2 linked regions of the Homo sapiens genome follow. The protein of the gene in region 1 purifies or fractionates together with the protein of each later gene. This does not show direct contact. Each region holds a gene or a part of one and is shown on either strand. Other genes may lie near its edges. The genes, in order: CNTN1 and ECE1.

Region 1 (3,562 bases):
TGTGCATATTATTTCATTGATACATGTCACTATTGCTCATTTAGTCTGCTTCAGCTAAGGCGAGATTGCATAGCCCTGGAAAACAAATGGGTCCTTTCACAAAACAGAATCTCTTATTCTTACATGATTTAAGAAAAACAAAAGCTTTTGATCAAAGATTTTCTGTGTGAGACCATGTGAACTGTTTACACAACATGATTAATCATTTAAAATAATATGATCACAAATGTGTATGCTGTCCCTATGATCCAGCAGTCCCAAATTCCTACCAGAAGGCAAAATGTCAAGAAACATATATACATGCATTAAAAAAGTAAGTTTTAAAAATAAGATAAAGTTGTGGGGTGGGGGGAGTGGGGAGGGATAGCATTAGGAGATATACCTAATGCTAAATGACGAGTTAATGGGTGCAGCACACCAACATGGCACTTGTATACATATGTAACAAACCTGCACATTGTGCACATGTACCCTAAAACTTAAAGTATAATAATAATAAAATGTAAAAAAAGAGATACAGTAAAAATACTAATAATTTTTCCTGAAACAATGACAACATAGGTATGCTAGGTAAATCTTGCATAATTTCACATCCCAATGGTTTTAAGACATTTATACATTTATACAGAATGACTTAAGTAATGTATTTCTGATATTAAATAATCTCATTCAATTTTTATCTAAAGAACAATTGCCCTGAGATATTACACTGTGAATTAAAAATTGAAATGATGTATTATAATATGCTATGGACTTAATTTACGTCTTGGGTGACACTTAGAAGGGCTACTCCTGTAGTCAAGTAAGTTTATGGGTCCGTGTCCTGCCGACATGAGAATTTTTGAGAAACTATTGTAAAGTAGGACCAAAAAGTCATACTCTTTCTTCCCAATGTCCACAACTATTAGGCACTATCTTCTTTTTAAATAAATTAATTATTATTTTTTAAGATACAGGGTCTTGTTCTATTGCTCAGGCTGGAGTGCAGTGGTTCAGTCATAGCTGACTGCAGCCTCAAACTCCTGGGCCCATGTGATCCTCCTGCCTCAGTCTCCCAAAGTGCTGGGATTACAGGCATAAGCCACCATGCCTGGCTGGCACTATCTTCAATGAACATGCTGCTAGAATGAGTGAAGACCTAAAAAATTTAGTCAATGGCTTACTAATATAACAGTTTTCATTAATTTTTGGAAGTTTACTCTCTAAATTTGAAACCACCAAATAAATTATTATTATCTATCACATTAAAAGTGACCATAAACAGCTCATTCTTTGGCATGGTCCTTTTATATTCAGGGAGATTTAGTGCATTTCTCCTGAATCTCTGGTCATTAAAAGCACATTCATGTTCCCTATAAGGTGGAAGATAATAGTGTCTGTCTGCTTGCTTGTCTTCAACATTGCCCTGCCTGGGGCTTTTGGAGCTGCCTGGAAACATAAGAGGGAAAGCTTTATCGGATACAGATAAAGTAGTTCTTAGAAATGAGCAGGAAAGTGAGGGTCAAAAGGTGAGGGCAGATAACAAGGGGAATATAAACAGCCCTCAAGTAGCAGAGCTCCTAAGGACACTATCAATAACAATAGTAAACTTATCATTACTTTGAGAGATGCTACTTACTGCCCTACAGCCAGCTACAAGACTATGTTGGCTCATTATGTAGATTATGACATGACTACAACAACCTACAATGGTAGGTCTTTTACCCTAATTTTATATATTTTGTAACTGAGTCAGGTAAAATGAGTTGCTCAAGTCCAATAGTCACTAGAGGGCAGAGAAGGGATTAGAATTCAAATTTGTCCAGCTGCAAAGGCCATGCACTTTTGACCTCTCTGCCGTGTTCTTGCAGGTAGCTTTAGCAAGGGACTGGTTTTAGAAATGCAGAAGGAAACTGCGCTCTGCACTTAATGTATCAAGGCAAGGGCACAGAAGGAAAATAATAAATGTCATATGGAAAAAAGCTAACACATAAACTGTTTCAAAGAGATCTTTGTATTCTTGTAATTTTTTTTATCTTCTACTTTTCTACAAATTTTTTAAAATATGCCACAGACCACACATTATTTTATTCTGATAAGATGCCCAATAATAAACCTCAATCACACAGTAAAACCTTTAAACGTCAATGTTTGACCCAGTGTAAATGATCCATCCTGAAGCCTTTTTTTTTTTATTATACTTTAAGTTTTAGGGTACATGTGCACATTGTGCAGGTTAGTTACATATGTATACATGTGCCATGCTGGTGCGCTGCACCCACTAACTCGTCATCTAGCATTAGGTATATCTCCCAATGCTATCCCTCCCCCCTCCCCCACCCCACCACAGTCCCCAGAGTGTGATATTCCCCTTCCTGTGTCCATGTGATCTCATTGTTCAATTCCCACCTATGAGTGAGAATATGCGGTGTTTGGTTTTTTGTTCTTGTGATAGGAATTGGAAATCATCATTCTGAAGCCTTTTTTGTCTGAGGATGACTGCAGGGTCTCCACAATGCTCTGTCTTTTGACCACAAATTACATCTATCATGGGGACATGTTTATGTACTTGGCTGAATATGTGGGTTGGCAAAGTACAAACTGTGGCTGCTCGAAAGAAATTTAGTGAATTGTGGATGCCATCTTGATGTTTTGGTACTAGTATGAAAACCAAATACAATTTCATAATTTGTGGCTTTGACATCAGGATATTTGAAATAAACTCTCCATGTTTACGTGTGTTATATTTAATTTCTCTAATGGCTCAAGCTTATGTAATTTTGGTCTTCATCTTTACTTCTATCCCACATTCCAAACAGAAATTAGAGACCGAATTGAAGTACTATCTAATGTCATTTTAAATGACATATATTCTTGAGGAGTTTTTCAATATATATTGGTTTTGAATCTAACAACATATATATCAGAATACTGCTATCAATCATAATTCTGGTACTTATGTGTTATATAGTAAACACATATTTTGCTTTTCACATAGCTGATGAATGTTAAACCTGAACAAATCATTGATCTTGTGAATAATTTTTCTCTATCAGAAGAAATGTAAAACCAATTTGGAGTACTATATCTCTTCCATGGGAATTCTTGATTTTTTTTTAAATCTAAACTTTGATTTCATACTTCCTTCAGGGAGAATTCCCGCTATATGGAGAGTGATGCTGAAAACAGACATTTCAATTAAAAGTTGAGCAGTACTGCAGGCTTTCTGATAAGTAGAAAACTGCTCTACTTGGTTTTTAATACAAACTTCCTTTCTGATTCTTCAATCTGGACACTGTGATGCAGTCTTTGTTTCTACTGCTTGCCTATTGCTGACGATGCCATAACATTTAGAATTTTCTCTTTGTGGTGTCACATTTTGTGACCACAACTGCTAATATCTCTATATTATGAACAACTTCAAGACAGAGATGATATCCAAATTATGTTTTAGCTGTGTTGACTAATACCAAGCCTAGTGCATAGAAAGTACTCAACCTATAATGTTAAATGATTGAGTTATGCCTCCATTGTAGGCCCTGAATTTTTTCTTATTACAGAGCACAGGGGGTCTAAGGAAGAA
Region 2 (3,824 bases), on another chromosome or scaffold:
CTACCCTCCAAGCTGCTTAGGCCAGTCTCCCATGCTTGACGGGACCTCATTTCCAAAAGAAACGTAAGAAACCAGTCACATCTCCCCATGCTGTGACCTCATCTCACGGATCCCCTCCACAGTCCCATGAAGGAGGCTGGGCAGGTGCGACAGGGATGCAAAGAAGAGACTCAGCCGAGGCCAGCGGCCATTGGAAGCAGATCGGTGCCCTGACTCACGGCCCAGCCCTTTCCATTGCACCCAGGAATTGGCCACCCTGCCCTGGAGAGGCCTCCTGATCCTGGCCTAGTACCTCTAGGTGACTTCTCCTGCCCCAGGGTGAGGCATCTGGATTCGTTCTGCCTTTAGAGACAAGGCTTATCCAGAAACCATGAGGCCCGTAGCCGATAGTACAAGTCAAGCAAAGAACAAGACAAAGGTTAAAAACTCCATTTTCAAACTCCATTTGCCATTCTTGCCTGGAACTATGAATTTTTAATTCAATTCTGGCTTAATTTTAATTTAATTTTGCAGTGAACACCATCTGTTTAGATTCAGCACTTTGCATCAAACAGTGAGGGTCAGCTCCACTTCCTGTGGTAGGTCTGCGGCTGCCAGTCCTGGAGACGTGGGTTGCCTCACTGTTCTCTCTCCTCTCTCCTTGCCTTCATGCCCCGACTTCCTGGGTTTCTTCTGGAGCTAACGCTAATACCTACTCTTAGGAATGTTGTGAAGATAGGCTGGGTGCAGTGGTTCACGCCTGTAATCCCAGCACTTTGGGAAGCTGAGGCGGGCAGATCACCTGAGGTCGGGAGTTTGAGACCAGCCTGGCCAACATGGTGAAACCCTGTCTCTACTAAAAATACAAAAATTAGCCCGGCGTGGTGGCGGACACCTGTAATCCCAGCTACTCGGGACGCTGAGGCAGGAGAATTGCTTGAACTCGGGAGACAGAGGTTGCAGTGAACAGAGACCTCTCCACTGCACTCCAGCCTGGGCGACACAGTGAGACTCTGTCTCAAAAAAAAAAAATTTAAAAAAAATTCAAAAAAAGGAATGTTATGGGCCGGGCGCTGTGGCTCACGCCTATAATTCCAGCATTTTGGGAGGCCAAGGCGGGTGGATCACGAGGTCAGGAGATTGATTGAGACCATCCTGGCTAACACGGTGAAACCCCATCTCTACTAAAAATACAAAAAATTAGCCAGGTGTGGTGGCATGTGCCTGTAGTCCCAGCTACTTGGGAGGCTGAGGCAGGAGAATCTCTTGAACCCGGGAGGCCAAGGTTGCAATGAGCCGAGATGGCGGCACTGCACTCCAGCCTGGGTGAGAAAGCAAGACTCCGTCTCAAAAAAAAAAAAAAAAAAAAAATAATGTTGTGAAGATAGAATTGCACTATCAAAATAGAATTAATATGATCCCAGGCCCTTAGCACTCAAGTATTTATTTGCTGCCATTGTTCTTTTTTCCCTTTCCTATCCCTCTGTTTCTTTCATCTTCCCCTTCTGTTCCTTTCTTCTCTCCCTTCTCTCCGCAGATGGCTTTGCTCCTTGCTCTTAGCTGTCTCCTTGTCGCCCACACCATGACATTTCCCTGTACATTTAAGGTGAGGTTTTCCTGCATCCCAAGCCTAGTGGCTGCATCCTTTGGCTCCCTGGAGCCAGCACCAGGCACAGGGGTACCTCTTTTCTTTTCTTTTCTTTCTTTTTTTTTTTTTTTTCAAGACAGCGTCTCACTCTGTCACCCAGGCTGGAGTGCAGTGGCGTGATCTCTGCTCATTGCAGCCTCCAGCTCCCAGTTTCAAGTGATTCTCTCACCTCAGCCTCCCCAGTAGCTGGGATTACAGGCATGAGCCACCATGCCTGGCTAATTTTTATATTTTTAGTAGAGACAGGGTTTCACCATGTTGGCCAGGCTGGTCTCAAACTCCCAACCTCAGGTGATCCGCCCACCTCACCCTCCCAAGGTGCTGGGATTACAGTCATGAGCCACTGCGCCTGGCCTCTTTTTTACTTTTTTGAGATAGGGTCTTGCTCTGTTGCCCAGGCTGGAGTGCAGGGGCACAATCATGGCTTACTGCAGCCTCGACCTTCCGGGCTCAAGCAATCCTCCCACCTCAGCCTCCCAAGTAGCTGGGACTACAGGTGCATGCCACCATGCCTAGCTAATTTAATTTAATTTTTTTTAAGAGATGGGGTCTGACTGTGTTGCCCAGGCTGGTCTTGAACTCCTGGGCTCAAGCCATCCTCCTGCCTCAGCCTCCCAAAGTGTTGAGATTATAGGCATGAGCCACCATGCCTGGCTGATGGGTACCTCTTAAACCAAGGTCTCATCCAGGTGCAGTCCAGCACTTTGGGAGGCTGAGGCGGGTGGATCACGATGTTAGGAGTTCGAGATCAGCCTGACCAACATGGTGAAACCCTGTCTCTACTAAAAATACAAAAATTAGCCGGGCGTGGTAGCACATGCCTGTAATCTCAGCTACTCAGGAGACTGAGGCAGGAGAATCGCTTGAACCCGGGAGGCAGAGGTTGCAGTGAGCCGAGATCGTGCCATTGCACTCCAGCCTGGGTAACAGAGGGAGACTCCATCTCAAACAAAACAAAACAAAACAAAACAAAACACTGTCTCACGGCCTCCTTGTGCCCTGTGAGCTGAGCCATGATAATGGGGACATGAGAAGCCTAAAGGAGGAAGGATGAAACAAATTAGGGGCAGCAGGACACATACGTCAGTGTCCCTAGGCAAGGCAGTCCCTGCTTCAAGTCCTTGGGACCCCTCTGAGTACCAGAGACCAAGGTAAAGTGTGTGAGATAACTGATTACTCTGAAAAAGCACTTTATAAACATTTGAGTACAGTGTACATGTTAGCATCATACCAGGCTGTCTCTCTCTGCACCAGGCCCTCACAGCCTGAAGTTTTAATTCATGGTCTGAAACTTTCATTGCTCACTTTTTCAGAAGAGATTCTTGAGGGATTTGAGCGGGCGGCATCCCTCCCACTGCCTGACCCAGCTGCTTCAGTGTCTGAGCCTCCTGGGCCTCCACGGAAGTGTCTCTAAGCCCCAAGATCCTTTGCTCAGTTTTGTTTTGTTTTGTTTTGTTTTGTTTTGTTTTCCGAGACGGAGTCTTGCTCTGTCGCCCAGGCTGGAGTGCAGTGGCGCAATCTCAGCTCACTGCAACCTCCGCCTCCCGGGTTCAAGCGATTCTCCTGCCTCAGCCTCCCGAGTAGCTGGGATTACAGGCGCCTGTCACCACTCCTGGCTAATTTTTGTGTTTTTTAGTAGAGATGGGGTTTCTCTATGTTGGCCAGGCTGGTCTTGAACTCCTGACCTCAGGTGATCCTCCCACTTCAGCCTTTTAAACTGTTGGGACTACAGGCATGAGCCGCCGTGCCCGGCCCCTTTTCTCAGTTTTGGAACCCAGTTTTTTTTTTTCCACAGAAAGTGCTTGTGTTCCTCCATCTCTGGTGCAGCAATTCCCAGTCATTTCCTGCCCAGTAAATACCTAACCATGGCCACGTGGCTTCTCAGTACCCTTCCCTCAACTGACCCACTTCAGATCCCCGAGTGCCAGGGTGGGACTCCCTCAGGGCTCTGACCCGGCACCAGGGGCACCCCTCAGGCTGTTGGTGGGGCCGTTGCAGGTCAGAGTCTGAGTCTCCTCATCTTCCCTGACAGCTTCCCCTCTTCCTGGCAAGCCTTGCTCCCTCCACCCTGCCCTTCCCAAAGGGTAAATCTAATCATGTCACTCCAGTCCTCAAGAGGAAGTCCAGGCTCTTAACCTGGCTTTCTGTGCCCCTTAGGATCTAGGCCCTCCTCTCCTCTCCACTTCCATTCCTTCTT

Evidence for each region.
Region 2: the proteins of CNTN1 (region 1) and ECE1 fractionate together in Homo sapiens (co-fractionation; one large-scale study listed by BioGRID). This does not show direct contact.

The regions. Positions count from the first base shown.
Region 1 is NC_000012.12:41,066,378-41,069,939, reverse strand, and holds part of CNTN1 (contactin-1 isoform 1 precursor), read right to left. Parts: intron 1-3,562. UniProt on the Homo sapiens protein: Contactins mediate cell surface interactions during nervous system development.
Region 2 is NC_000001.11:21,280,464-21,284,287, reverse strand, and holds part of ECE1 (endothelin-converting enzyme 1), read left to right. Parts: intron 1-3,824. UniProt on the Homo sapiens protein: Converts big endothelin-1 to endothelin-1.